Linked DNA regions of Homo sapiens: all the other regions are linked to region 1. Evidence: fine-mapped expression QTL. A gene starts in region 1. Each other region holds a variant in brackets. All regions are shown on one strand. Distances are between the middles of the regions. Region 1 holds the start of GUCY1A1 (guanylate cyclase 1 soluble subunit alpha 1). Region 2 has its middle 62 kb from the start of GUCY1A1. Region 3 has its middle 93 kb from the start of MAP9.

What was found. PIP is the estimated chance that this variant, and not a neighbour inherited with it, causes the effect.
Region 2: its variant is fine-mapped to the expression of GUCY1A1 in fibroblasts (GTEx, PIP above 0.99).
Region 3: its variant is fine-mapped to the expression of GUCY1A1 in aorta (GTEx, PIP above 0.99).

What each region holds. Positions count from the first base shown.
Region 1 is chr4:155,665,453-155,668,217 of GRCh38, reverse strand. GUCY1A1 (guanylate cyclase 1 soluble subunit alpha 1) reads right to left here and starts at 1,370. Exons shown (of 10, transcript NM_001130682.3): 1 at 1,253-1,370; 2 at 799-872.
Region 2 is chr4:155,603,644-155,606,408 of GRCh38, reverse strand. No RefSeq gene overlaps it. Among named protein-coding and RNA genes, the nearest start is that of GUCY1A1, 62 kb to the left of the region's middle. The variant T/G (reference allele first, on the strand shown) is at 1,547.
Region 3 is chr4:155,468,852-155,471,616 of GRCh38, reverse strand. No RefSeq gene overlaps it. Among named protein-coding and RNA genes, the nearest start is that of MAP9, 93 kb to the right of the region's middle. The variant T/C (reference allele first, on the strand shown) is at 1,462.

The DNA of each region.
Region 1 (2,765 bases):
TCACATGACCACATTGCAACGCAGCCCCTCACACCATTGTCACTGTCAGGCAGCTCAGGCGACAGGGTGCAGACAGGCGCGGAGACCGCGGTGGCCCCCTGCTCACGCTTTCTCCAAGAGCCGCAGTCCTAACGAAAACAGAAATGGGACTGCTAAGCAGTAAATCATTTGTCTCTCTCGCACACACGCGCACACCTCGTGGAGCCGCTGGGCAGTTAGCCGGCTGCCTTCTCTGGGCAGCCCAGCGATCGCAGCTTTTGCTGTGGAGGAGGACGCGCCTCTTACCCACGCCGCAGCCGGCCGGGTGAAGTTGCCCTGAAGCCCGCCACCGCCTCCAGCCCTGCTGCCTCCGGGGTCCAGGCATCCCCCAGCTGCGCCCGCTCGCTTGCCTGCCGGCGCGCCGGAGGCCGCAGCGCTGCACGCGGCTGATGGGCTCTGGGGCCCAGGCGCCCTGGCCGTGGGAGACCAGCGGCCCCGGCGCGCCCCGCGCGTTCTCACGGCCCGGCCCCGCGAGCTCAGCAGCCGGCGCGGCGCTGCTCGGCGCCCACCCCCGTCTGTGCTCCTCCCTCGGGCGCCGCGGGTCCCCCGGGCCCTGGGCCGGCCCCTCGGGCGTCCTCTCCTTTCCTCTCGCTCCTCCCCAGCGTGGGAACCCGATGCTGGCTTCCCAGGGCTGGGCAACTGGGAGCGTACCGAAGGTTTCTCAGGAGAGGAAGGAGACCCAGCCCAAGCGGGGGTCCCGGAAGAGGGACCGCCTGTCTGAAGAACCCCGACCCGCGTGGGGATGCAGCGACCACTTACTTGGTGGCTTCGCACACCTCGGGGCTGTGCTTCCGGATCTCTAGCAGCTCCAGGGCGCGCCTCGCAAATCCGCACTGCGAATGGAGAAAGAGAGCAGGCGTCAGGGGTGGCAGGCAGTGAGCGGGAGAGGGGACCCTGCAGTGGCACCTGTCGGTCCCCGCGCGAGTGCACCCTGGGCACTCGCGGCAGCGGCACTTACGCTTGGGTCGCTCATGTCTACCTGTTCAACAGGCTAGGCGGGACGCGGCGTGCCTCGGAAACTGTATCGCCCGCGTGGCTCCCAGACAGTCCTCCTTGCCTTTGTCTCTCTGTGTCTGTGTCTCCCTCTTTGATCACCCCAAAGGAACCCTTGCAGTTCCTTTCCATAAGGCATTCGATTTTTTCAGACCTCTGCCCGCCTCCTCCCCTTCTCCGCACCGAAAGACTGAAAAAGAAAGTAGCAGCCAAAACGCACCATGGTGAGATCACGCCCGGCTGGGGTCTCTAAGCTCCTCCAGGCGCTCCCTCCCCCACAGGTGTCCTCCGCCTGGGTCTGTTCCAGGCTGCTCGCTGCTCTAGCGCAGGAAAAGTGTAGGAAAACTCTGCACTGAAACCTGCTTCTGGAAAACTGACTCTGAGCTGAGTCCCACCCACTAGGCTCAGACTAGGGCAGGGGAACTGAGTCCTGGTCTCTGCAGCCGCCCAATCGCCATAACAGAAATCACTGTGTGGAGACAGAGACCTAGGGGCAGGGGACAAAAAAAAAAAAAGAGAGAGAGAGAGAGAAAGAAAAAAATTGGAGGGGACTCCAGGAAAATTTGGCACACTTAAAAAGAAAAACAAAAACATGTCTTCTCCACTATGCACTGGTGTGGAAAAACTGTAGTTTTCCACAGTTAAAAACTCCAACATTTCTGCTGGGGAAGTTGACATCTGCGCTGATGACTCTCTTGTCCTGGTTTTCAGATTTGAAGCCAATCTACTCATTTGCAGATGCAGTTTTATGGTTACAGAGATTTTACATCTTTTCAGTAAGGTCTGGCTTCTGCCTGGTTCAGTGCATTTAGTTATATTTGTTACCGTTGTGTGTGTTGTGATATTATGCTTTTAGTCACCTTTCTGACTTAAAAAAATCCCATCATGCTGTTCCATTGTGAATTAACAATTAATCATGATCTTTATGTGATCCATTTTCAATTCAGTTCAATTCATGGTTATCTTCCTCTTTTATATCTCCCCCAAGTACACCATCTAATCTGGTCCCATTTGTAAGCTCATCACATTTGCAAACTTTCTCCCAGTCTTGCCTACTGTGCTTGCCTCATAGTGAACATTAATCAGAATCAGGAAAAAAATACATTTAAATAAGTCAGGAACAGTTAAGAAAGTCAGCAATATAAGCACAGGTAGTCACAGAAACTTTTGCCTTCCTGCCATCTCAGAAACTTCTCTTCCTCTACATTTAACCCATGATACTCTCTTAGATCAGTAGGACATTTGTACTAAGAATATTTAGAACTTCAGATGTAGAAGGAAACTTAAAAAATACACAGTAATTCATTAGTAAAAAGAAGAGGGAAGTCATACTATTTTTAAGTAAATGCTATGAACATTCAGAAGAAAATGAGATATTGTCTGACAGGGTTCATAAAGGAACAGTACTAGAGATAGGACTTGAAGGATTGGTTATGTTTGGAAAAAGATAAAATAGAGGACTTTTTTGTTGTTTTTGCTTTTCTCTGACAGAGGGAAACTTGTGAGCAAACATACAGAGGTTGGAAAGGCATGACACTGTTATTCAAGAAACAAGGAGTAATACCATCTGGTAGAAATAAAAAGTACATAAAGAAAAGTGTAGGAAGATACGGTGGAAAGATAGGCCGGGTTCAGATGCCTGATCCGCAGTTGTCACGTGTTGCAGGCTTGTATAAAGACTTTGTTGTTGCTGTTGTCCTCGTCTGTTGATACCATTACCAATATTCCTTTCA
Region 2 (2,765 bases), 62 kb after region 1:
ATATCCAAAATATATATACATATGTAGATGTATATATCACAACTGATACACACATATCAGTGTATGTAATACAATTGGTCCAATACTGCTTTGTTCCCTTAACAGTAGATTGTAAACATATTTATAGGGGTCCTCATTTATCTGCAATGTGATTTCAAATGGGAAGCAACATGATGAAGTGTTTTACCCCCGGACTTTGGAGCCGAACTACCTGGATTTAGGTCCCAATGTGTGATTTACCTATTGTGTGACATTACGCAAGTCCCTTATCCTTTCTGTACCTCAGTTTTCTCAATTCAAAAGGTTGCTGTGATAAGTAAATAAGTTACTATATGTAAAGCATGTATTACATCTGGCACAAAGTAAGCACTATATTTATGAGCTATTATTATTATCATTATCAATGGTTGGATACTATCCCATCCTATGAATAGATCATAATTTAAATAACAAATCTCAAAATATTTCATACCCAAAAAAACTTCTTTTTAATACCTATAATAGAATATAGCCATTATTTTAATTAATTCAAGTAATGGTTTATGTTATAAAAGATCAGGGAAAAAAGTAAATGAAGTTAGTTTGTTCTCTGTTGAAAGCAGATATTTAGAAAAAATAAGTTACAAGTACATAATTATTTTAATGGATATATATATACATAGAAATCATTTATGTTGGCATTTTTAAACTATAAGAGTTTCAAGAGAAAATGTAAAAGGAAAAAGTCATAGATATGTTTCTACAGGTTTAAGAGTACATATTCCACCAAATCTTTATATATGCAACATTGAGAAGTGTTGTCTTAGAATTAACAGGGTGTTAAAAATATTTTGGTTGTGTTCCAGTAAGAACTATCTACACACAAACAGCAACTCAACTGGAAAAAGTCTCCACAACAAAATTGGTTTCCAGAACATATATTTCACAGGGTCCATTGCTTCTGCTCTAATCAAACGATCCTTAGTAAGTAATTCAAAAGAACATCTCCATTGGCAATTTGCTGACACTGGTTTTCTTTTCCCACAAATTGAAAACACTGATTAAGGAAAATAATCTGACCAGGCATGTGAGCAAATCCAGTGCCTGACAGGAAATCTGTCTGAAATAACTCTTCAATGGGCCTCCCCTATTATCTAGATATTCCAATTCCTGTCTTGGGAACATGGGAGACTCCTTTGGGGCTGAGGGTAGAGATGAGATGGAGGAATCATATGAAATTGTTAGCTTCAATTTGTGACATGCAAGGTTAGACTGAGAAGGAGAAACTGCCTGACCAGGGTACATGTGTCCTGCTATGTAGTTATGAAGGTGTGGCGCTCCTCTCTATAAATATATTGCAGAATGTGAGATAGCTCACTATCAGAGAGTATATTATATTAAAAACTCTCTCTGTTTACTTATCTCTTCTAGCTTTGCCAAGTTCATAATTATATACTCTCTATGAATTACATTAAATAATTTAACATGTCTGGCAATGGCTCAAAACCTAAGACATATTTAGGAAAATGCCCAAGTTTCTGTGGTTTTTGTTCTAAGAATCCTGAAG[T/G]CTTAGTCAGAGACGTGGAGTAACTGTTGGGTCGTGGCCAGTGTACTTGAAGTGATGGTGGTTATGCTTGCTCCAAAGATCAAGAATAAAACATTTTTCTGATCCCAATCACCTTGAAAGCATGATCATTCTAAACTTTTTATGCTTTTCACTTCCAAAAAGATTTTCAAGGTAACCAAAAGTATTAGTTGATAATACAAAGATTTTTTTTTCAGAAGCATTCCAGCTAATACATATAAAAGAAATGTGGTAACTAGAAAATCATCAAATTGCAATTTGTAATGAAATAAATGATATAGACAACAACAAAAATTTGCTGAGCTAAGGCAAAGAATGAGAAGGTCTTCATCATGAGAAAAACAAATATAATTTGATCGGACTCTTGCATGGTTCTACCTTTGGTTAAGGATGCCCTGATGGTTTTTCTGCTATCTTCTGTATTTTCTTCACTAAGTATCCTTGTTCCTCCCTCCTTTCTTCCTTGAATCCTTTCTTCCTTCTTTCACTCCTCTAATAACTATTTATTGAGACCATGTTATAATTGGCATTGAAGATGCAAAAACTGTCCGTGTGCATTCCTTGTCCTGTCCTTCAGGGACAGTAATGAGTAAGAAAAGGGCAAAAGCGGCTGGGCACAGTGGCTCATGCCTGTAATCCTAGCACTTTGGGAAGCCAAGGCAGGTGAGGTCAGGAGTTCAGGACCAGCCTGGCCAAGATGGTGAAACCCCGTCTTTACTAAAAATACAAAAATTAGCCGGGTGTGGTGGCACGCACCTGTAATCCCAGCTACTCGAGAGGCTGAGGCAGGAGAATTACTTGAACCCGGGGGGCAGAGGTTGCAGTGAGCCGAGATCGCTCCACTTCGCTCCAGCCTGGGCAAAAGAGCAAAACTCTGTCTCAAAAAAAAAAAAAAAAAAAAATAGAAAAGGAAAGGACAAGAGCCAGACACCAGTAGGTTTGAATACCAGGTCTATCATTTCTATGCTGTGGAATTTGGGGCATGAGACTTAGGACCTCTGAGCTTGATTTTCCACTTAGAGTTATTGTGAAGATAAATGAGAGAGAACTCTCAAAGCACCTAATACAACCACGCAGTAACACAAGCACTTGAGAATGGTAAGTCTACTACCTTTCCCGTCCCCCTGCCCCACACACTGGTGCGTGAGAACAAAGAGTTCTTTCATTCCTAGCCCTGTCTCCAGTGTGGGATCTTTGGCTC
Region 3 (2,765 bases), 200 kb after region 1:
AGTTCAATTACTGGCATATGGTAGGTGCCCAACAAATGATACCTTAAAACACAAAAATGGCCAGGCATGGTCACTCACACCTGTAATCCCAGCACTTTGGGAGGCTGAGGTGGGTGGATCACCTGAGGTCAGGAGTTCAAGACAAGCCTGCCCAACATGGTGAAACCCTGTTACTACTAAAAATACAAAAATTAGTCGGGCATGTTGGTGGATGCCTTTAATCCCAGCTACTCGGGAGGCTGAGGTGGGAGAATCACTTGACCCCAGGAGGAGGGGGTTGCAGTGAGCCGAGATCAAGCCATTGCACTCCAGCCAGGGCGACTGAGTGAAACTCTGTCTCAAAAAAGAAAAAAAAAACGACACCACAAAAATGAAGAGCCACTAAGGGACTCAGTGATCTGGCAACTTTAAATCTAATTTTCTAGGCTCCAAATTGCTCATCTCATGACCACTGCTCTAAGGTAACTACTTCCAGCTTCAGAACTCTTAGTATGGAGTTTAAGGAGTTGTTTATGTTTTGTGCAAAGGGCAGTCTCTAAGTAATTTCTCTTTATCCAGTGATTTATGTGGAAATTATATTCTGAAAATATCAGGTTAGGTAATATTGTACTACTCCTGATCCCTACTGAATCCTTTTTATATGTGTGTTCTCTGAAAGCAATGTTTTATCAATAGCAGTAGTTTTGAACTTTGAGACTCAGAGTGTTTTGTGAGAAGTTAATGAAAGTTATAAACCTTTTCAGTGGAAAATGCACATTCACACACACATATTTTGACTATAATTTCAAGAGGTCCTGTGTTTCTTGAAGCCCAATATTTGGAGAGCCTGGGTTGCAGGCTTCCCAGGTTCCCAAGAACAGAGTCTCTGCATTGAGATGGTGTGAGAGGAGAGGATGGAGGTGTTTATGATTATTCCACAGCCTTTTGGAGGGAAGATAATTTTTTTGCCTGGAATCCAAACCTAACAATAATTCCCCCTTGAGTAAGCATATGCTCTCTTTGAAACTGTTGCTTGTCTTGTTAAAACCATTGTCTGATCTTTCCTTCTTCCCTTCTTCCTGGCCACTACTACTGCCATTATTATCACCCTGCTTCATTTTATGCAAAGTCTAGAAGCATAAAGGGAGTCCTGGTGTTTATTCACTTCTTGCCTAATGATTTCACTTCAGCAAGACATCAACATATATGTACACATGATTGATTTCCCCTCAGTAACTTACCGTTTTCTTCAATATCATCAACGTCCATCCAAGCAGAGATATTGCAATGTCCATAGATATTTATCCTATTGGCTCATAAAGAGCTGTAAACACCAACATGTGGAGCTGCAAAGCAGCTCATTTTACCTAAATGATTGCATTAAGGAAGATTGATAGCCACAAAGAAGAGGTGGACATGGGCGGGGCTAGAGAGGGAAGAAACACATGCCATGGTTTTTTAGGCTAAATACTGCGAGTGGTA[T/C]TCATATGTGTCTCTGCTGTAGCAATGGTGATACTTAAGTCGTTGTTCCCCCTCCTTTTGGGACCTGTTTGGGACTGCTATAATAGCTTTCAAACAGTGAATAAAAATATTACAGACCATCAAACTTTCCTTAGAGGACTTCTTTTTTATGTCAAAGACCTTCAGTGAATGTGTTGTCTTGCTTTTCTGAAGAAAATAGTTTTACAGATGGAATGATATCCTCTTACAATTGTGTCCTGAGTAGAGTACAGCTCTATACATGTATATGTATATATTTCTATCCTCTGGCTTTTAATATCTTCTGACCAACTTTAGGGCAAAGACAGTAGTGAGAATATTGGTAGGGCTAGACCTTGGTAAATTATAAAATAAATGCACTGAATTCAGTCTTGTTTACTTTTCCTGCTCCAAGATACCTCTTCTAACTAAGCCTTGATATAGCCAAAGTATTAAGATAATTCCCCAAAACACGAACTAAAAAGCTAACCAAGCAGTCTGACAAGCTTGATTCCTAGCCATGGGGGCCTCTGAATTTTATTAGACTGTCAGCTCCTTGAGAGCAGAGACCATGTCTTTAAAAAAAAATCTATATTTGATCTGTAGTGCCTATGACAGTAATTATCCCAAAGTAAGTAGACAATAAGTACTTGAATGAATGAAAAAGGATAAAAATTTTATAATTCATTTTAATGTTGTATTTATCTTCAAGTTTATTGACGTGTTTAAGAGTTCTGAAGACCCTAAACAATAATTCCACTGATTGAAATAGCATAGTCTTGGATACAACCACCCAATAGGCTGGATGCATCATTTTCTGGTCCTTGTAGAAATTACACACCTTCAGGCTGGGCGTGGTGGCTCACACCTGTAATTCCAGCACTTTGGGAGGCCGAGGCAGGTGGATTGCTTGAGCTCAGGAGTTCGAGCCCAGCCTGGGCAACATGGTGAAACCCCATCTCTACCAAAAATACAAAAAATTGGCCAGGCATGGTGCCATGTGCCTGTAGTCCCAGCTACTCAGGAGGCTGAGGTAGGAGGATCACTTGAGCCTGGGAGGTGGAGGTTGTAGTGAGCCAGGGTTGAGCCACTACTGCACTCCAGCCTGGGTGACAAAGTAAGACTTTTTCTCCAAAAAAAAGGGAAATGAAACTATACACCTTCATTAATATTAAATATAGACATACATAATTATTGATGAAGAAAGACAGAGAAGCATAAATAACTGGTACTCAAAGCATCTCTATAACTCTAACTTTAGTGAAAACTCTGAGGGAGACTGCCTTATAAAACGGTACATTTGTCAT